Linked DNA regions of Homo sapiens: all the other regions are reported to be linked to region 4. Evidence: microRNA targets listed by miRTarBase, many of them from high-throughput screens and not tested one by one. Region 4 holds a microRNA gene; each other region holds the end of a gene's coding sequence.
What was found. The annotated mature microRNA hsa-miR-152-3p reads UCAGUGCAUGACAGAACUUGG and lies in region 4 at 833-853, shown strand. An mRNA with a match to its seed (bases 2 to 7 or 8) in the 3' UTR can be bound and repressed. Matches are read on the target gene's strand: a 7mer-m8 pairs with bases 2 to 8, a 7mer-A1 pairs with bases 2 to 7 and ends in A, and an 8mer does both.

Region 1: the mRNA of ASB6 is a reported target of hsa-miR-152-3p. Seed matches in the 3' UTR shown: 7mer-m8 at 1,843-1,849 and 7mer-m8 at 3,453-3,459.
Region 2: miRTarBase lists ALCAM as a target of hsa-miR-152-3p. Seed matches in the 3' UTR shown: 8mer at 3,893-3,900.
Region 3: the mRNA of MXD1 is a reported target of hsa-miR-152-3p. Seed matches in the 3' UTR shown: 8mer at 1,402-1,409, 7mer-m8 at 1,146-1,152 and 7mer-m8 at 960-966.
Region 5: the mRNA of STRADB is a reported target of hsa-miR-152-3p. Seed matches in the 3' UTR shown: 7mer-m8 at 1,190-1,196.

What each region holds. Positions count from the first base shown.
Region 1 is chr9:129,634,604-129,638,835 of GRCh38, reverse strand. ASB6 (ankyrin repeat and SOCS box containing 6) reads left to right here. Exons shown (of 6, transcript NM_017873.4): 5 at 177-263; 6 at 379-4,231. The coding sequence ends at 1,046. It overlaps NTMT1 (N-terminal Xaa-Pro-Lys N-methyltransferase 1), which reads right to left. Exons shown (of 4, transcript NM_014064.4): 4 at 2,701-3,628. The coding sequence ends at 3,372. Among named protein-coding and RNA genes, the nearest start is that of ASB6, 5.4 kb to the left of the region's middle.
Region 2 is chr3:105,570,831-105,575,062 of GRCh38, forward strand. It overlaps ALCAM (activated leukocyte cell adhesion molecule), which reads left to right. Exons shown (of 16, transcript NM_001627.4): 15 at 1,022-1,134; 16 at 3,647-4,232. The coding sequence ends at 1,109. Among named protein-coding and RNA genes, the nearest start is that of ALCAM, 210 kb to the left of the region's middle.
Region 3 is chr2:69,937,380-69,941,611 of GRCh38, reverse strand. It overlaps MXD1 (MAX dimerization protein 1), which reads right to left. Exons shown (of 6, transcript NM_002357.4): 5 at 4,218-4,232; 6 at 1-3,515. The coding sequence ends at 3,328. It also overlaps a transcript of ASPRV1 not described here. Among named protein-coding and RNA genes, the nearest start is that of ASPRV1, 22 kb to the left of the region's middle. RefSeq lists an enhancer at 3,768-4,232.
Region 4 is chr17:48,035,027-48,038,026 of GRCh38, reverse strand. MIR152 (microRNA 152) reads left to right here and starts at 780; the gene lies at 780-866. COPZ2 (coat protein complex I subunit zeta 2) reads left to right here and starts at 230. Exons shown (of 9, transcript NM_016429.4): 1 at 230-360; 2 at 1,102-1,176. The coding sequence starts at 250.
Region 5 is chr2:201,479,095-201,483,326 of GRCh38, forward strand. STRADB (STE20 related adaptor beta) reads left to right here. Exons shown (of 12, transcript NM_018571.6): 11 at 395-437; 12 at 938-1,752. The coding sequence ends at 1,081. Among named protein-coding and RNA genes, the nearest start is that of STRADB, 29 kb to the left of the region's middle.

The DNA.
Region 1 (4,232 bases), not on the chromosome of region 4:
GGTGGAAAGGGAATGGCCAGAAGCCTGTCACCCTCAGCCCTCACCTGAGCTGAGAGTTGTCTCTGAAAGTTCATCTTCTGATCCTCTGAGTGTCTGGATTTCTGCCACCTCCTCTGGGTTGCCCTGACCTGGGCTTCCTGGCCTCCTGCTCCTCCTTGCTCTCCCTCCCTCCCTAGGAAAAACTGCTCTGCTCCATGCTCTGGCCAGCAGCGACGGGGTGCAGATCCACAATACTGAGAACATTCGTCTCTTACTGGAAGGAGGTGAGGCTGGCGCGCTCCTAGGCCTCGTCCTCTCACCCGCCCCTTCGATGTGTGCTGTTGCTTTGCCAGGGTTGAAGGCCTTCTCCCAGCATCTCTTGTTCTATGGCTCTTCTAGGGGCAGACGTCAAGGCCACCACCAAAGATGGGGACACAGTGTTCACCTGCATCATCTTCCTGCTTGGTGAGACCGTGGGAGGGGACAAAGAGGAGGCCCAGATGATCAACCGCTTCTGCTTCCAAGTCACACGGCTGCTGCTGGCACACGGGGCCGACCCCAGCGAGTGCCCAGCCCACGAGTCCCTCACCCACATCTGCCTGAAGAGCTTTAAACTGCACTTCCCTCTCCTGCGCTTCCTCCTGGAGTCCGGAGCCGCCTACAACTGCTCCCTGCACGGTGCGTCCTGCTGGTCTGGCTTTCACATCATCTTTGAGAGGCTCTGTTCCCACCCAGGCTGCACGGAAGACGAGAGCCATGCGGACCTCCTGCGCAAAGCTGAGACTGTCCTGGATCTCATGGTGACCAACTCTCAGAAACTCCAGCTGCCCGAAAACTTCGATATCCACCCTGTGGGCAGCCTGGCGGAAAAGATCCAGGCCCTCCACTTCTCCTTGAGGCAGCTGGAGAGCTATCCCCCGCCCCTCAAGCACCTGTGCCGTGTGGCCATCCGGCTCTACCTTCAGCCGTGGCCTGTGGATGTGAAGGTCAAAGCCCTGCCTCTGCCCGACAGGCTGAAGTGGTACCTCCTTAGCGAGCACAGTGGCTCCGTGGAAGATGACATCTGATAGGTCTCAGGCTACAGGAACGGGGGACACGGGCAGCTCAGGTCAGCCTGTTGGTAGATGCTGGGACAGCATTAGAAGAGGGTCTTTTTGATCTGGGAGATGAGACGGGATCCTTCATGAGAAAAGCCAGCCAGGTAGAGCCTGAAGCTGTGATCACTCCAGTGGTGAAGGGTGCAGCTCTGGTTCTTCCAGAGAGACTGCCCCCTTCCCTCCAGCGGCACTCCAAGTCCCCCCCATGTTGGAAAGAGGAACAGGGCTTGGATTGATGTTTATACCCTCTGAATTGGAGGGCAGTGCCAGGGCATTTGCAGAAGCTGGGAAGGACCAAGCCTCAGCACCCCAGGGCTGCGGGGCTCTTGTTGGCCGCACGTGGCAGTGCAGCTGGAGAGGAAGCCTGGGGCACGTCCTGTGCGGTGCCACCAAGGCCCCACCCCTGCCCCTTTTCCTTCCAGGTTCTGTTACTCACAGAAGTGTTTCTGGTGGGCTCTGCGGGAGAAGACACTAAGGGCCCCACAGGCTTGTTTCATGGTGTTGCAAGCCAAGCTGGCCCCTGCCTGTTCCTGTAGCTCTGGGGCCAGGTCAGCCGTGGCCCCACCTACCAGAACTGTGCTCTGCTGGCAGCTGTGCTTTTGCCAAACCCAGGGCCTCAGCGACCATGACTTCTGCTAAAAAGCAATCATGAGTGCGTGGCTGGGGACAGACCTCTCTGAAGTGTCTCCTGTTGTGAGGGGCTCACTTTGGAGCCACTGAAGAGCCGACTGTGCCACCCACTTGCGAGCCTCAGTCCCTTCCAAGCTGCACTGGTCATTGGGAATTGTGTAAACACCTCTGGGGATAAGCTGAGGTGACTAAATGATATATTTATATTATAAGATTAAACTGACTTTCTTGGCCTTAACAAGGTCCTTATATAAAATTTCCACCCCGCCCCTCCATAGTTCAGGATAGAGGCTCCCACAGCAGCCGGTAAGGAAGTGGGTGGCAGGTGTGAGGGGATGCTGTGTTTGGGGGGTTGTTTCCAAGTCCCTGCAAAGAAGCACCACTCTAGACTGGCAAGGGCCTCCACAGTGTGGAGGTCCCATTTTATTATTTTTTTTTTTCGAGACACTCTGTCACCCAGGCTGGAGTGCAATGGTGCAATCTCGGCTCACTGCGACCTCTGCCTCCCAGGTTCAAGCAGTTCTCCTGCCTCAGCCTCCTGAGTAGCTGGCATTATAGGTGCCCACCACCATGCCTGGCTGATTTTTGTATTTTTAGTAGAGACGGGGTTTCGCCATGTTGGTCAGGCTGGTCTCAAACTCCTGACCTCAGGTGATTCGCCTGCCTCGGCCTTTCAAAGTGCTGGGATTACAGACATGAGCCACTGTGCCCGGCCCCCATTTTATTTTAGTTTTATTTTGAGACAGAGTCTCGCTCTGTCACCTAGGCTGGAGTGCAGTGGCGCAATCTCACCTCACTGCAAGCTCTGCCTCCCGGGCTCACCCCATTCTCCTGCCTCAGCCTCCTGAGTAGCTGGGACTACAGGCGCCCGCCATCACGCCTGGCTAATTTTTTTTTTTTTTGTATTTTAAGTAGAGACGGGGTTTCACCTGTTAGCCAGGATGGTCTCAATCTCCTGACCTCGTGATCTGCCCGCCTCGGCCTCCCAAAGTGCTGGGATTACAGGCGTGAGCCACCGCGCCCAGCCCCATTTTATTTTTTACTTTAAATGCCTGCCAAGGAGCAGCCTCAAGCCCAGAGAAGACTGAGGCTACGGGGAACTTCCCTTGCTGCAGGCTGTTGTAACACTTTAAGGGCCCCAGGTCTCCACTGCCAAGCAGGACTTGGCACATGAGCACCCACCCCACAGCACCATCAGGCAGCACCCATGGGCTCCACCAGCCCAGCTCTGTCCCTCCCCTAGGTAAAGATCACACTGAAGTCTTCAAGTCCCCAGCAACCAAGTTGGGGGTGGTTTCCTTCCTCTTCAGGCAGCCAGGCCCATGGCTGGAAGGCCGGGCTGGAGGCCCAGGGAATCGGTTACTGATGTGGCCACCCTATTCCCACATGGGGAGCACCAGGAGCCCTGGAGCCCCTTCCACCCAATCCCATCTCGCAGGAGAGCAGGGTCTGGGCTCCTGCCTCACCGCTGGTTCAGCAGCACCCTCCCCGCCGGGTCCCACCTTGCCTTTTGAAGAAGAGCCCGCATAATGAGTGGACGGCAGACAGCTATATTTAGTGGTGCCTCGACACTCACGAACCGCCAGCGTGGCGCCTGGATCTTGCCCAGCTGCCAGCTCCCCCCACCAGGACTGTGGTTCCTCAGTTTCTCCTGCCAGCCCCGGCTCATCTCAGGGCAAAGCTATAGACATGGTAGATCTCATCGGGGAGGTTCTCCTGCCTCTCCTCGGCCAGGAGGCTGAGGCCTGCACTGCAGATGATCCTGCGGACCACGTCAAGGTCCCGGCACACGCTGCTGTCCACGTCGTCCAGAATCACGCCCTCCTGGGCCATGTTGTCTTTGATGACGATGATGCCGTTGGGGCGGAGGCTGCCCTTGCAGCGCCGCAGGAACTCGGCCAGGTGCTGATCGGTGAGGTGGCCTGGGGAGGGCAGAGGCAAGGTTACCAGGGCACCATGCAAGCGGATGTCGGCACTGGATGGGATGTACTTCTCAGCCCCGCTGAGCCCCTCATTTGTGCCCAGCATTTTGTGTGCACACATGGCCTCATTGGCTCTCAGTCCCGAGAGATTTACTAAACCCCAATTCATAGAATAGGAAACTGTGGCTCAGAGGTCATCTACCTAAAGACACATTAAGCCAGAATTTGACTTGACGGGATGGCTTACAAGTCCTGCCTGATACCTACACACCATGATGCCCCACCCCTGCCAGGCTTGGATCGGAGGAGTGAACCTGGGCTAAGAGTTTGGCATTGCAGGAGCTCCCAGAGAGACTGCCTTCCCTACACTAGAAGTCCCCACAAAGGCTTCTGAGACCACAAAATACAAGGCCAGACCTAGAGTGTCCACAGCAGGCCTGTGCTGCCCGCCTCAGGAGGTGGCCGACTGCTGCTAGCGGCCTGCCGCCACGTCAGCAGCCCAGGGCACAGCGCTCGAGGTGTGCTGTTAGGCTAAGAGGGTGCAGGGCTAGACACGAAGCTTAAACTATTCATCTTATTAAAAATAAAACCCTTATAAAACTCC
Region 2 (4,232 bases), not on the chromosome of region 4:
TAAAACTATTATGTGAGAATTCAGGTTGTAGTAGCCTTTGGGCAGGAAGTAGACTGCAAGGTCATATAATGGTCTGCAATTGTCTCTTATTCTGGATGCTGGGAGGAAAGGAAGGAAGGGAGGGAGGGAAGGTGGAAGGGGTGCACTCTTGGACATACAGCTACCATTTGTTCTGCTTTCTCCTAGTTAGCCACAAACCCTTAATTGTGTAATTAAGAAAATCTGATTTAATGTCTTAAAGAATAAGAGCCTAGGCATGGGTAATCAAAGTAGCCGCTAAGGCATTGGTTTTCAAACTGTGGCAGGCAGTGGAATCACCTGAGGAGTTGTTTAGCAGAGATCGCAGGTCCCATCCCCACAGTTTCTGTTTCTGTTTCTGTAGTTCTGGTATAGGGCCCGAGAATTTGCATTTCTTGCAAGTTCACAGGGGATGCTGATACTGCTGGTCTGGGGACCATAATTTGAGAACCAGCCACGTTAAAGTTGCTATAGCTTCTGTTGTCGATGTTCTATCATAAACTTGGTCTCAATAATCTGGTTGTTGTTGTATTCAGTAAAACAGAATATTCATAAAGATAGACATAGGGTGTTAGCTCAACTGGGATACATGATAGGGAACACCAGAAGGGAACGCGCCTTCATGAAATGTCCTTAAGAAAATTTTTTTGGAGAAAATTCGCTTAGAACAAAAATTTACACTATCAAATGAGTTACTTCCCAGAAAGTGGAGAGAAAAATAACCTAGCTAAAAACATGATGCACAAAGTGTTGTATAGTCTGTTTTCAAAATAATTGATTTTTTTTTCTCTTAGCATACATTTACTGGAACCCCATCACCAAGCTAATTTCAGTACAATGTGCTCCATTATCAGTCAAGGCTCACAGATATGGAAATTTTTGCCTAGCGGTTTGCTGTAAAACATTTGCTTTTCAAAGACACATTAATTCAAATCTTAAAATTAAATATAAAAGTTGAACATGTATGTGTCAATATGATGAAGTTTATTTAATTCTCTTACAGGACTGCATCAAAACATGTAAACAAGGACCTCGGTAATATGGAAGAAAACAAAAAGTTAGAAGAAAACAATCACAAAACTGAAGCCTAAGAGAGAAACTGTCCTAGTTGTCCAGGTGAGTAGTCTGTACGAGGTTCATAGAAATAATTCCCTAGCAAGTAGGAAACATCCTTAAAGATGAAGTCCTTTATGTTAAGATGCTCCATAATTACAGCTTTCAAAACAGGAAGAGAGGGGTTTTTTTTCTTTTTATTATGCTTTAAGTTCTCAGATACATGTGCAGAACGTGAAGGTATGTTACGCTGGTATAAACGTGCCATGGTAGTTTGCACGCATCAACCCATCATCTACATTAGGTATTTCTCCTAATGCGTCCCTCCCCTAGCCCCCCACCCCCTGACAGGCCCCATTGTGTGGTGGTCCCTTCCCTATGTCCATGTGTTCTCACTGCTCAACTCCCACTTATGAGTGAAAACATGCAATGTTGAGTTTTCTGTTCTTGCGTTAGTTTGCTGAGAATGATGGTTTCCAGCTTCATCCATGTCCTTACAAAGGACATGAACTCGTCCTTTTTTATGGCTGAATAGTATTCCATGGTGTATGTGTGCCACATTTTCTTAATCCAGTCGATCACTGATGGGCCTTTGGGTTGGTTCCAAGTCTTTGCTATTGTGAACAGTGCTGCAATAAACATACATGTGGATGTGTGTTTATAGTAGAATGATTTATAATTCTTTGGCTATATACGCAGTAATGGGATTGCTGGGTCAAATGGTATTTCCGGTTCTATATCCTTCAGGAATCACCACACTGCCTTCCACAATGGTTGAACTAATTTACACTCCCACCAACAGTGTAAAAGCGTTCCTATTTTTCCACATTCTCTCAAAACAGGAAGAGAGTTTTTCGAAAGGAAACTTTCGTGACTCAGAAAGTGTTTTCGGAAGAATGGAAACTTACCAGTTTCCCCCACTCCCTCCTCAAAATAATCATTATCTTCTGAATAATAAAAACCAACTATGAGATGTTAACATTCAACTATCATTTTATATTTTAATGCAAAAACTTTAAGTGCAAAGAAGCTTTATTTTTTGAATTGGTGTTTGGGTTCAGTAAGAACAGATTCTAATACCTTAGATTTGTTTTAAATAAATGATTATGAAAATAATTTTAAAATATGAAAATTTTAGGCCAGGTATAGGCAATGGCTCACGCCTGTAATCCCAGCACTTTGGGAGGCTGAGGCGGGTGGATCACTGGAGACTAGAAGCTCCAGACCAGCCTGGCCAATGTGGTGAAACCCTGCGTCTCTACTAAAAATACAAAAATTAGCCAGTCCTGGTGGCAAGCACCGATAATCCCAGCTACTCCAGTGGCTGAGGCAGGGGAATCACTTGAACCCAAGAGGTGGGGGTTGCAGTGAGCCAAGATGGTGCCACTGCACTCCAATCTGGGTGACAGAATGAGATTCTGTCTCAAAATATAAAAATAAAAAAATAAAAAACTTTAATCTAGATATTTAATAAAAGCGTGAGTGTATTTATACAGCCAATATCCCAAATCATTTTAATGAAAAGCATAACAAACTTGTGCACGTGTGTATACATATACGCATATGCTTTTATAGGTAGTATATGTATGTGTATGTGTATATATGTATCCATGTATCTATATGCACATATGTAGAGGCATATGACTGTTATATTTAACATATAAAATAGCTGTGTGTGATTTTTAAGACAATCTCAAAAGAGGTATGTTTCCATGGCATTGCCACCTGCAATTTGAGGTTTTTCTTTTTATTTGTGTTCCCTTAAACCAAGCAAATAGAAGAGCCATTTGGACTATTAATGTGTCCTTTAGAATAACTGTTACTATAGCTTACCGATATGATATGACAAGCCCCAACCGCCACAGTAAACCTCGGGTTCATTATAAATAAACCACAAGTCACAATTTGAGTGGGTCATCCAAGTTAATCCCATAGTAAGGATGGAGCGTGAGAAAATACTGAATTTAAAAGGATGCACACAGGGGAGAACAATAGAATAATTGAAACAAGACTTGGTTTTTAAAATCTGAAAGCCAGGATTTTAAACTGATGGGGTGAAAGGAATCAGAACTGGATTGCTTCTCTATCTCACCTTTCATTGGAGGTCAAGTATGCAGCATTCCCACATGACTTTTTTTGTTTGTTTTTTCCACTTCTCTAGGGTTCTTTTCCCCAGTCCTTTGTAAACATAGATTTTAACTACTGTTTTCTTCAAAATCGTATAACTTCTCAATGAAAAACTGTACTTGAAGACAAATCCCACGAAATAGTGTGATTTGAAGAAATGAGTGTACTTTTAACCTAAAGAGAAATGCAATGAAATATTTTCTTGAAAAAAAACTTGTAATATTAGTATTAATTTTACAAAAAAAGAAAACTCTGAATAATTCCAAAAACTATTTGTAGAATGGATGAAGCAATGCCTGAGATTATAGATGGGCTTGGGGACAATGGAGTTTTATAAAAGGCCCTCCTGTAAAGTAATTTACTAAATTACTTTTAGTACAAAGTATCTGTTGATGTTAAAAAATTATTGCTTTGGAAGCTTATCTAAATTATTTTTTTTTCATTTCAGAGATAAAAATCATATAGACCAATTGAAGCATGAACGTGGATTGTATTTAAGACATAAACAAAGACATTGACAGCAATTCATGGTTCAAGTATTAAGCAGTTCATTCTACCAAGCTGTCACAGGTTTTCAGAGAATTATCTCAAGTAAAACAAATGAAATTTAATTACAAACAATAAGAACAAGTTTTGGCAGCCATGATAATAGGTCATATGTTGTGTTTGGTTCAATTTTTTTTCCGTAAATGTCTGCACTGAGGATTTCTTTTTGGTTTGCCTTTTATGTAAATTTTTTACGTAGCTATTTTTATACACTGTAAGCTTTGTTCTGGGAGTTGCTGTTAATCTGATGTATAATGTAATGTTTTTATTTCAATTGTTTATATGGATAATCTGAGCAGGTACATTTCTGATTCTGATTGCTATCAGCAATGCCCCAAACTTTCTCATAAGCACCTAAAACCCAAAGGTGGCAGCTTGTGAAGATTGGGGACACTCATATTGCCCTAATTAAAAACTGTGATTTTTATCACAAGGGAGGGGAGGCCGAGAGTCAGACTGATAGACACCATAGGAGCCGACTCTTTGAT
Region 3 (4,232 bases), not on the chromosome of region 4:
TTAAAGGAAAATGCCCACCTTAAAAAATAAAAACAAAACAAAACACTCAAGTGGCCAACTGCAGGACGAGGGCCTACTTAATGTTCAGTTCTGAATCAACACTGAAATTATTTTCATCTTAGGTTGACAGGGAAAATCTAGGTCCTGCCTAAAAATGTGATGCATTTTGAATCACTAAACTAGCATTAGGTGTGTGACTACAGAAAGGAGCCAGCAGTTGCTATCAGCACCTTGAAGAATTCAAGATCTCTGCTTAGCAAAAGAAAACCAAAATACAGACGACCTGGGTGCTCGGCCCACCATTCAAAGCCAACAGGGGATGGAAAGCTATGTTTTCAGGATGTTACAGAAGCACACATATATATTTTCCCACTGCATGAAATTAAATTAGACTGCGTACTCTTATTTTTCCCACTTGCGTTATGATGGTATCAATAAGAGTGCAGTTTAGATTTTTTTAGTTTTTTAAAATCAACTTTCACATAAAAATATGCATGTGCCTATATTTATACACATCTGTATTTACGTACAATTGTCAAAGTCTTAAAGGCTGGGGTTTATATCTCTGCCCATCCCCTCCCAACCCCAAAATCCCTAATAGAAAGGTTTTCATCTTGCTTAAAAAGACAAAACAACTAAAAAGACTATAGCTCTTAGCAGTCAGGCTGGTGGATCAGTGAATGAGAGAGGACAAATTGGCGAATCAGGGCTGCCGATCAGCCGCACGGGGCGCGGAGGATGGGGTTGGGGGGATTAGCTGCCTTGGGCTGAGTTTGCTGGTCCTGAAGATTACAGTTTTGGTTAGAGAGAGAAGCCTGTCTAGCATGCTGACTCGGTCTACCTCAAGCTTTGAAAGTAATGTCTAACCCTGCTGCCAGTTTATCACAAGTGCATTAAAAATATAGAGATCTATCAAGTTCCACATTTATATGCAATCAAACTGAAAAGGACCAGACAAACAGTGCAAAGGTCAAATAATTACTGTTTTATATTGGGACAGTACATTTCAGATTTCAACCAAAAGACAAAAATGCAGTTTAACTCAAAGGCACAACAATTGAAACACAGAAAATAATGGCATCTCTTGGATGCCTTATTTCTAAATTAAACAAAGAAGTACACAAATTTTGTTCCCTTCCCTCCCCCAGTGCAAGCCCACAAGCTTTTTCCAAAGTCTTGAGCTTTTGATGCTGTCCCGCATTGTGGACTTGTGAGGCGCTTGGATGTAGCAATGAAACAAAATGCTTGAGAGGTCTAGTGAATGGCATTCAAAAGGGACCTCAAAGTGCAGACATATCTTTTTCAAATATGTTACAGGCTGAACTGGCTCTTTGAACACTATCACTCTGCTTAAATCCAGGAAGCAGGCTTTAAAAATGCAAAAGGCATACAAGTTGTATTTCAGTGCAAATCTTTAGCTGGTTATTGGAAAAGATTCCAAAAATTAAAAAAAAAAAAAAAAAATCCTTTGTGTCACCTGCCCCTCCCCCCACCCAAAGCCAAAATGAAGAAAAGACAGAACAAAACAAAAACAGAAGAATTACAGGTGACTTTGGAATCATTTAGGAATCCACTACTTCCAATCAGAATGTTTAGAAAAATACATTAAAGAATCATTTTTTAAAAAACACAAAAGTAATCTTGCTTTCTGAGACTGCTCTTCGGGTATAGAATGAGCTTCCGTGTGGAGTGCGTTTGAACTTTGACCTTAGCTGTGTGCGAGGTGCAGGCGCTGGGGGAGCTTCAGGCTGTGGTGTGCGAGTGACCGCAGGGGAGCGTGGGGTGGCTGCCCGCTGCCGAGTCAGCCGTTGAGCCCTTAGGTCGCAGTGCGTCCGTGGATTTTAGTAATGTTCTCATCACTTTGTGACACACTCTGCTTCAGCATCACAGATTTTACAAATGGTTCAAATTCAATGAAAAAGATTCGCCAGAGGCTGAAAACATCAAGACCTCAAAAATATGAATGCAAAAATATTCAGGGGAATGAACTAATTTTGTAGATACCTACATACAAAGTTTCTAGAACATCTATAAAACCACAAAGTCATAAGAATTTGTTTTCCATTACATTAGTTTATATAAAATGAATAAATAGTATTTATAGATTTAATGTGTCTTATGTACATATACATGTGCTCTGTTTTAGCTTAAATAAAAATGCTACAAAGTCGGAGACCACTTAAGGGAGAAATCATAACCAAAAAGAAAAATCAGCCTTTTAAACTATCAACCCAAAAGCCTCCATAAAGAAGTTTCTGGGTGTGTCCAAAAATAATCAATAAGGAGAGGAGTTCTAGTAACAGTGTACCATCCTCTCCTGTTCACCTGCAACAGAGAGTAGAAATGTGGACTTTTTCTTTCACTGATAATGGCTACTAGCTCTGCTAGTGCCACAGCTCAGTTATTGCTGAAAGTTCAATAGGAAAATAGATTATAATTGGACCAAATGTCACTATTTTGGGGGGGGAAAAAAGGATAATCACTGTGTTAAGTGGGAAATGGAGATCTCATTTATCTCTGAGGTAGGAAAAAAAAATGTTCCAGAGACAAGTAGCATTAACAAAGTTGGAGGGGAGAATGTGCCTCGAGATAGCAGAACACAGCGAGGTCCCAAGAACATCGCACAAAAATAGATTGTACCGTTTTGTTTGTGAGAACAAACAATTTGGAACTTTGATGAGCTGTGCAACCCCAGAGACACACTATCAAGGTGTCCATTTTAAAGTGAGAAATACTGCTCCCATCCACACGCGGCGCGTCGGGGGAATGAGCATGCGCGGTGTGAAGGGCGTGTTTTCTAGAGGTATTCCTGACTTCCTCACTGGTGGTGAGGTCCATGGTTAAGTGCTCTTAAATGCTGCTTTCAAAGCTTACTTTGGAGTTCTGAGATCAGGATCTCAATTTCAAAAGTTTGTTTCCTTCAGTTTCCTAAGTACAAGACACACTTGGACATTCCTCCTAGGCAAGTAACACAGTAAGCCAGAAAACTGGAAGAAAGGTCTGGGAGAGGACACGAGGAGAGCAAAGAGGGGGATTGCTGAGATGTGGACATTGCTTATTCGGTCTAAGAATTCTTGGATGCTTCAAATTGATTGGAATGTATAGTCTCTCAGAGACAAATTTTTATGGCGAGAAAAAGAGAAGCTAGTGGATGCAATCAGAAACCCACAATCCTAAGCACCTCCTTGAAAACAGTTACAAAGCTGATTTTGGTCAAGGTGGGACACTGAAGTTTACGTGCAAGGGAGTTGTGGGCAGGTCCAATACGTTACCTAATCAGAACCAACAGGGAGAACCTTCAAGGAGACAGCCGCAGTGCCCACTCTCTTAGAGACCAAGACACGCCTTGTGACTGTCCTGCAGCTTTATTCTCTTGATGCTGGTGCTGGAATAGCCCTCATCACTGCCGAGGCTCTGCATGCTGCCCCGCTCGTCAGAGTCGCTCACACTGCTGCTGCTCCAGTCCAGATCACCTGTGAGATAGTCCGTGCTCTCCACGTCAACGTCGATTTCTTCTGCAGGGAGGACAAGAGAGAAGGACATTGATGAAAGCGCTCTGCAGAAAGCTCAGGCGTGGTGGCTCATGCTTGTAATCCCAGCACTTTGGGAGGCAAAGGCGGGTGGATCACTTGAGGTTAGGAGTTTGAGACCAGCTGGGCCAACACAGTGAAACCCTGTTTCTACTAATACAAAAATTTGGCTGGGTGTGGTGGCTCACGCCTGTAATCCCAGCACTTTGGGAGGCCAAGGTGGGTGAATTACTTGAGGTCAGGAGTTCGAGACCAGCCTGGCCAATATGGTGAAACCTCATCTCTACAAAAATAGGAAAATTTGCCAGGCATTGTGGTGTGTGCCTGTAATCCCAGCTGCTTGGGAGGCTTAGGCAGGGGAATCGCTTGAACCCGGGAGGCGGAGGTTGCAGTGAGCCAAGATCACACCACTGCACTCCAGCCTGGGTGACAGAGCAAGATTCCGTCTCAAAACAAAACAAAACAAACTAGGCTGAAAACTGACACCAATCAAACTCTTCTGGGGTTGTCACCTAAGTGTTAGCAGGGAGAAGGAACCTGTCACTGGAGGTCACACTGTTCGACTTCTCTACATCATACCCAGTGTCTTAGTTCTTCTTACACTCTGCCTCCTGTCCGCAGTACTGAACCCCTGCTCTGGGGTTGGGGAGCACAAGGGAGACAGGGAGGAGAGTGAGAGAGGCTCACCCCTGTCGGAGTCGG
Region 4 (3,000 bases):
CCCTGAGGATGCAGAGTTCGGGGATGTAAGGGACTCGGGAAGGAGCCAAGGAGGAGAGAGGGAGAGGAGAAGTGGGGGAAGGAGAGGTGGGGTGAGGGCGGGAGGGGAGATGGGGGAGAACGAGCAAGAGGACGGGGCCCCGAGGAAAGGGAGGCCACGCGCGAGAGGGGGCCGCGGGGCGGCGCGGAGGCGGGGCGGCGGCGGCGGGCAGGCGGCGGGCGGCGCTGTCAGTGCGAGGCGGCGAGCGGAATGCAGCGGCCCGAGGCCTGGCCACGTCCGCACCCGGGGGAGGGGGCCGCGGCGGCCCAGGCCGGGGGCCCGGCGCCGCCTGCTCGAGCCGGGGAGCCCTCGGGGCTGCGGGTACGGAGCGGGCGGGCGCGGGGATCCCGGGCGGCGGGAGCTGGGCAGGGACAGAGCAGGGTTAGGGGGAGCAGCCAACTCAGAACTCGCGCGCCCGGCGGCTGGGAACTTTGTGTCACCCCTGACTGGCCCCAGGACCCGGGAGGAAAAGTTCGTCCCAGCGCCGACCGGAGAGGAGGCCTGTCCTGAGTCCGTCGGCGCGGGGCTGAAGTTCTGGGTCCGTTTGGAGTGGGGGTGGCGGGTGAGTTGCGATTCCGCGGGGAGGGTAAGGAGTGGCCTGTCCGTCCCAGACTCGGCTCCCATCACCGGTGGGTGATGGGCATGCTTCTGGAGTCTACCCGGGCCAGGGCCTGGGGGCGCGCTGATAGCGCAGGTCCAGCCCGGCCAGGGATCAGCTGGAAGAAGGAGGCTCGGCCCGCTGTCCCCCCCGGCCCAGGTTCTGTGATACACTCCGACTCGGGCTCTGGAGCAGTCAGTGCATGACAGAACTTGGGCCCGGAAGGACCTTCTGCACCCAACGGGCACAGCGCCCACTCGGGGCCTGCAGTGGAACATCTGCCTGGGAGTGGAGTGGGCACCTGGGTTGGCCCATGTGGCACAGGGCTGGGCAGAACCAGCTGTGGACCTTGAGGACTGGGGTTGCTGGGGCCTGAGGATGTATCCTAGGGCCAGCAGATCCCATAGACACAGGGTGTCCACCTCGAGTCAGGGGCCAAACGGAACTCTCCTCTCCGGTGTCAGTTGCAGGAACCTTCCCTCTACACCATCAAGGCTGTTTTCATCCTAGATAATGACGGGCGCCGGCTGCTGGCCAAGGTAACCTCTGACCCCACCCATGAGGGACACAGTTCCCACTCAGCTGACACTCCTGTCTCAGGAGAAACTCCACTGTGATCTCTGTGACTCAGGGCAGCTCAGCTTAGACCCCTCCAGAGGTCCTTCTCATCCTCCTGCCTTGTCAAGGTGCTGCTCCCTGAAATGAGGGGTCTCCTCTATTTCTACTCATGTTCCCTGAAATGTTTCCTTATCATCCTGCTACTGGCCAGTTGGACCTGGGCATGGGAAGGTTCTGCCTAATGGGTCAGTGGAGTGTTGAGCCTGGGACCCAGGAGTCTTAGTCCCCAAACCCCCACACAAGTTCTTTTGTTCTTTGGGGTTTGTCTCTAAACCTCCACTTTTGTTCTACAGCTTGGTAAACACTAACGATTTAGTCTAAGGAGTCTAAGGATTTAGAACCAGATGGGATTTTAGAAACTGTATAATCCAACTCTTTAATTTCGTAGATGAAGAAAATGAGGGGTAGAGAAGCTAAGTGAGTTGCCTGAGGTCACAAGTATTAATATCCTAACAGATCCAAACTCAAATTTTATTTATTTACTTATTTAATTTTTTCACTTCTCCCATTTCACAGGTTTCACAGGCAAACTCGGGTTTTTTGACATGAAGCTCAAGGTGGTTTTCACTGTACCCCCATTCAATTAGCTGTTATCTATCCTAGCAAACATGGCCTGAGCGAACCAAACTAAAATAATCCAAAAATAAATTTCTGCTGTCAACACAATTAATTGTAGGGGAGCTATAGCATCTGCATTAGCTATGAAATGCATTATAAGGCCAGGTGTGATGGCTCATGCCTGTAATCCCAGCACTTTGGGAGGCCAAGGCGGGCAGATCACTTGAGGTCAGGAGTTCGAAACCAGCCTGGACAACATGGTGAAACCCTGTCTCTACTAAAAATACAAAGAATTAGCCAGGCATGGTGGTGGGCGCCTGTAATCCCAGCTACTCGAGAGGCTGAGGCAGGAGAATTGCTTGAACCTGGGAGGCAGAGGTTGCAGTGAGCCGAGATCACACCATTGCACTCCAGCCTGGGCAACAAGAGCGAAACTCTGTCTCAAAAAAAAAAAAAAAAAGAAAAGAAAAAGAAAAGAAATGTGTTGTAAGGCCAGGCGCAGTGGCTGATGCCTGTAATCCCAGTACTTTGGGAGGCCGAGGCGGGTGGACTGCTTGAGCCCAGGAGTGCCAGACCAGCCTGGGCAACATGGCACACCCCATCTCTACAAAAAACAAAACAAAACAAAAACAAAAAACAAAAAAACGAAAATTAGCCGGGCGTGGTGGTGTGTGCCTGTAGTCCCACCTACTCGGGAGGCTGAAGTGGGAGGATTGCCTGAGCCCGAGAGGTTGAGGCTGCAGTGAGCCATGATCGAGCTACTGCACTCCAATCTGGGTTATAGAGTGAGACCCCATCCCAAAAAATAGATTTTCTGTTTGTTTATTTGGAACTGAAAGTTTTTTGTTTTTATGAAATTCAAATAAGCAGCGGCCACTAGGGAGATGGCTAATCTGCCTGCGGATTGAGTATTAAGTGGCAAAATCCACATCCAGAAAATTGAAAACTGAGCTGACCACACCTTGCCCCAGCAGATGGTCAGAGGTGGATCAGCAAGGCCAAAGGCTTTTCCTCCCTACAGATTAAGAAACTGAGTCAGAGAGAGAGGCTCACCATTCCCAAACAAAAAACATTAATTTAGTTATGGGATATGTGTGAGGAATTGTTTCTTAGATATTTAATCTTCACTATAACCCTGTCTGCAGTCAGACCGTCCTTAGTGGTCAAACCCAGCTTTGGCCTCACAA
Region 5 (4,232 bases), not on the chromosome of region 4:
AGAGTTGGGCTCCAGTCTCAGCTGTATCATTTTCTAACTGATTTTTACAATAAAAATGAGAGTAAAAATCAGTTACTCTTTCTAGACATTAATTAGCACATTTACGTTAAGACTCTAAGTAGTATAAAATGTAAATTGCTGCTACCCTACTAAGTTACTGTCAGTAAATACTGTGTGCAGTAAATGTTGAGTATGGATTAATTGAAGGATACCTCTACAATTATTTCCTTTAGTCAAGGTTGTAGCTAAGAATTGGGCTTCTGACATACATTCTTTTTAATCTTTTTCGTATTGGGTTTTATAGCACTAAACCTAATTTCTAACATATTTTTACACCTGAAATCTACATTCTAATATAAAGGTTTTTTTTTTATAACTTTCTTAAAAATTTCAGGCCATCAGCAAGCAGTTTATTGTCCCATGTTTTCTTCAAACAGGTGAGCTGATCTATCATCCGTTGTCTCGATGTTTTTAATTACTATTAAAAAGTCACTTTATTTTGTTGGCTTGATGAGATATTTTGGTTACCAAGGTTCTTACTAATAACTTTGTTACAAAATAAAGTTAAAAACAAGAAAACTTTTGGTAGTTCAATTATAGACTTTCTAAAATACTTTCATTCTTCAAAACAGAATGAGTAAAAATAAAATGGACTATCATCACATTACTGATGCTTGGTGTATATTTTGATTAATTTAGAGACATTTTCTATGTTGGCTAGAAATGATGAAAGGGCAAAGTAACTCTGATAAGAAGTCAGTTTCTTTGGCTCTTCTTCCTGTTTTCAGATGACCAGAATCAAAGGCAGTTTTAGGGGAAATACCTGAAAACAATTTTAAACACATTTAACATAAATTCTTTAAAAGTTATTTATTGCTAACAAAACTGATATATTGAAATGATATATCAACAGCCTTATTTTGAGTTTCTTTAACAGATGAAAGAAGAAAGCCAGGATTCAATACTTTCACTGTTGCCTCCTGCTTATAACAAGCCATCAATATCATTGCCTCCAGTGTTACCTTGGACTGAGCCAGAATGTGATTTTCCTGATGAAAAAGACTCATACTGGGAATTCTAGGGCTGCCAAATCATTTTATGTCCTATATACTTGACACTTTCTCCTTGCTGCTTTTTCTTCTGTATTTCTAGGTACAAATACCAGAATTATACTTGAAAATACAGTTGGTGCACTGGAGAATCTATTATTTAAAACCACTCTGTTCAAAGGGGCACCAGTTTGTAGTCCCTCTGTTTCGCACAGAGTACTATGACAAGGAAACATCAGAATTACTAATCTAGCTAGTGTCATTTATTCTGGAATTTTTTTCTAAGCTGTGACTAACTCTTTTTATCTCTCAATATAATTTTTGAGCCAGTTAATTTTTTTCAGTATTTTGCTGTCCCTTGGGAATGGGCCCTCAGAGGACAGTGCTTCCAAGTACATCTTCTCCCAGATTCTCTGGCCTTTTTAATGAGCTATTGTTAAACCAACAGGCTAGTTTATCTTACATCAGACCCTTTTCTGGTAGAGGGAAAATGTTTGTGCTTTCCCTTTTTCTTCTGTTAATACTTATGGTAACACCTAACTGAGCCTCACTCACATTAAATGATTCACTTGAAATATATACAGAAATTGTAATTTGCTTTTTTTTAAACAAGGGGGCTAAAGTAACACTTTCCTACTTATGTAAATTATAGATCCTAAATTCACGCACCCCGTGGGAGCTCAATAAAGATTTACTGAATTGAGTTTATGCTTTTATTTATTTTCCTTGCATAGTCTGACAGAGCTAATATACAGATTCTGATTTGTTTTGCCAAGAAAAGCCCTTTCTCAAGCAGATTTATTTACATAATCTATAATCAACTGAGTATTTGATTAAATGGAGGCAGAAGGCATTCTGGCCTTTTGTATGGTTATTGCTCCTGTAGGAGATACAACATATGAGGGCATAGAGGTCTTAATTAATTAATATTTCCTAATTAGAAAAGAGACTCTGCCATGTCTCAAAAAGAATACATAGTTTGGAGGTGTGGTAAACTGGGACCTACTTCAGTTGATTTTCTTAATTTATACAATCTTATTTATATTACATTAAAAGTTATTTTAAAATGATTACCTCAGGACTAAAAAATTAAAAAGACAAATAATATACAAATCCATAGGCGATTTCAAGCACAATTATCTTCATGTTTATTGACTGGACCCCCTCAAGAATGAAGGTTTGGGTTACTCCATCCGTTAAGCCACCAAGACCCACCAAAGTGAAAGAATTTAAAATGGACAGTGGAAAAGGGAGAAGATGAAGACCGCTGAGGCCCTAAGAGCAACTCTAGTGGTAAGGGCTATAGTTCATCCTACTAACCTCCCCCTTCTAAATTTCCCTTCCGTAAGAGAGGCCCACAGAGACCTTAGAGGTCTTTCAAATCTGTGTGGAGGTTCTCCTGAATGTGTGTAGTTTAAAAATTGGACCATAGAGGGCCCGAAATGGTGCTTCTCAGATCTTCTACTATGGGGTGTGTTAGGGTACTCCAGAGAAATAGCCAACAGAATCGATGTGTGTATATAATATATCTATATTTTATATACATACATACATAAACTGATTTATTATAAGGAATTGGTTCATGCGATTGTGGAGGCTGACAAGTCCAAAGATCTGCCAGGTGAGTTAGCAAGCTGGACATCCAGAAGAGCTGATAGTGTAGTTCTCATCCAAAGGTTGTCAGACTCAAGACCCAGGAAGAGTCAGTGTTTCAGTTTGAGTCCAAAGGCAGTAAAAAGCCAATGTCCCAGTTCAAATGCATTCAGGCAGGAGGAATTCTCTTTTACTTGGGGGAAGTTTAGCCTTCCTCTTCTATTCAGGCCTTCAATTGATTGGATGAGGTCCACTCATATTAGAGAGTGCAATCTGCTTCACTTAGTCGACCGATTTAAATGTTAGTCTGATCCAGAAACACCGTGTGATGGTTAATATTAAGTGTCAACTTGATTGGATTGAAGGATGTCTAGATAGCTGATAACACAGTGGTCCCAACCTTTTTGGCACCAGTTTTGTGGTATACAGTTTTACCATGGGGTGGGGGATGGTTTCAGGATGAAACTGTTCCATCTCAGATCAGGCATTAGATTCTCATAAGGAGCAGCACGACCTAGATCACTTGTGTGTGAGTTCACAATAGGGTTGGTGCTCCTATGAGAATTTAATGTGGCCGCTGATCTGACAGGAGGCAGAACTCAGGCGGTAATGCTCACCCACCCTGCTGCTCATCTGCTGTGACGCTGGGTTCCCAACAGGCCACTGACCCGTATGGGTCCACAGCGGGGTTTGGGGACTCCTGTGGTAAAGTATTGTTTCTGGGTGTGTCTATGAGGGTGTTGCCAGAGGAGATTGACGTTTGAGTCAGTGGACTGGGAGAGGAAGACCCACCCTCAATGTAGGTGGGCACCATGCAGTCAGCTGCCAAACGGCTAGATGGCGGCCAGAAGAGGGATAACCTTGCTTGCTGAGCCTTGTGGATTTCATCTTTCTTCCATGCTGGATGCTTCCTTCCACTCCTCCTGCCCTTGGACATCAGACTCTAGGTTCTTTGGCCTTCGGACTCTGGGAGTTGCACAAGGGCCTCCTGGGGACTTTTGTGCCTTCAGCCACAGACCGAGGGTTGCACTGTTGGCTTTGCTGCTTTTGAGGCTTTTGGAATTGGATGGAGCAACTGCTGGCTTCTTTCTTCCTCAGCTAGCAGATGGCCTACTGCAGGACTTCACCTTGTGATAGTGTGAGCCAATTCTCCCTAGTAAACTCCATTTCATATATTCATTAGTTCTGTCCCTCTGGAGAACCCTAATACACATCCTCACAGAGACACTCAGAATAATGTTATTTTTTGTTTGTTTGAGATGGAGTCTTGCTCCGTCGCCCAGGCTGGAGTGCAGTGGCATGATCTCAGCTCACTGTAACCTCTGCCTCCCGGGTTCAAGTGATTCTCCTGCCTCAGCCTCCCAAGTAGCTGGGATTACAGGCTCCCATCACCATGCCCAGCTAATTTTTGCATTTTTAGTAGAGATGGGGTTTCACCATGTTGGCCAGGCTGGTCTAGAACTCCTGACCTCGGACTCCCAAAGTGCTGGGACTACAGGCATTCAGAATAATGTTTGACCAAGTATCTGGGCACCTGTGGCCCAGTACAGTTGACACACAAAATCAACCATCACCATGGGTATCACCATG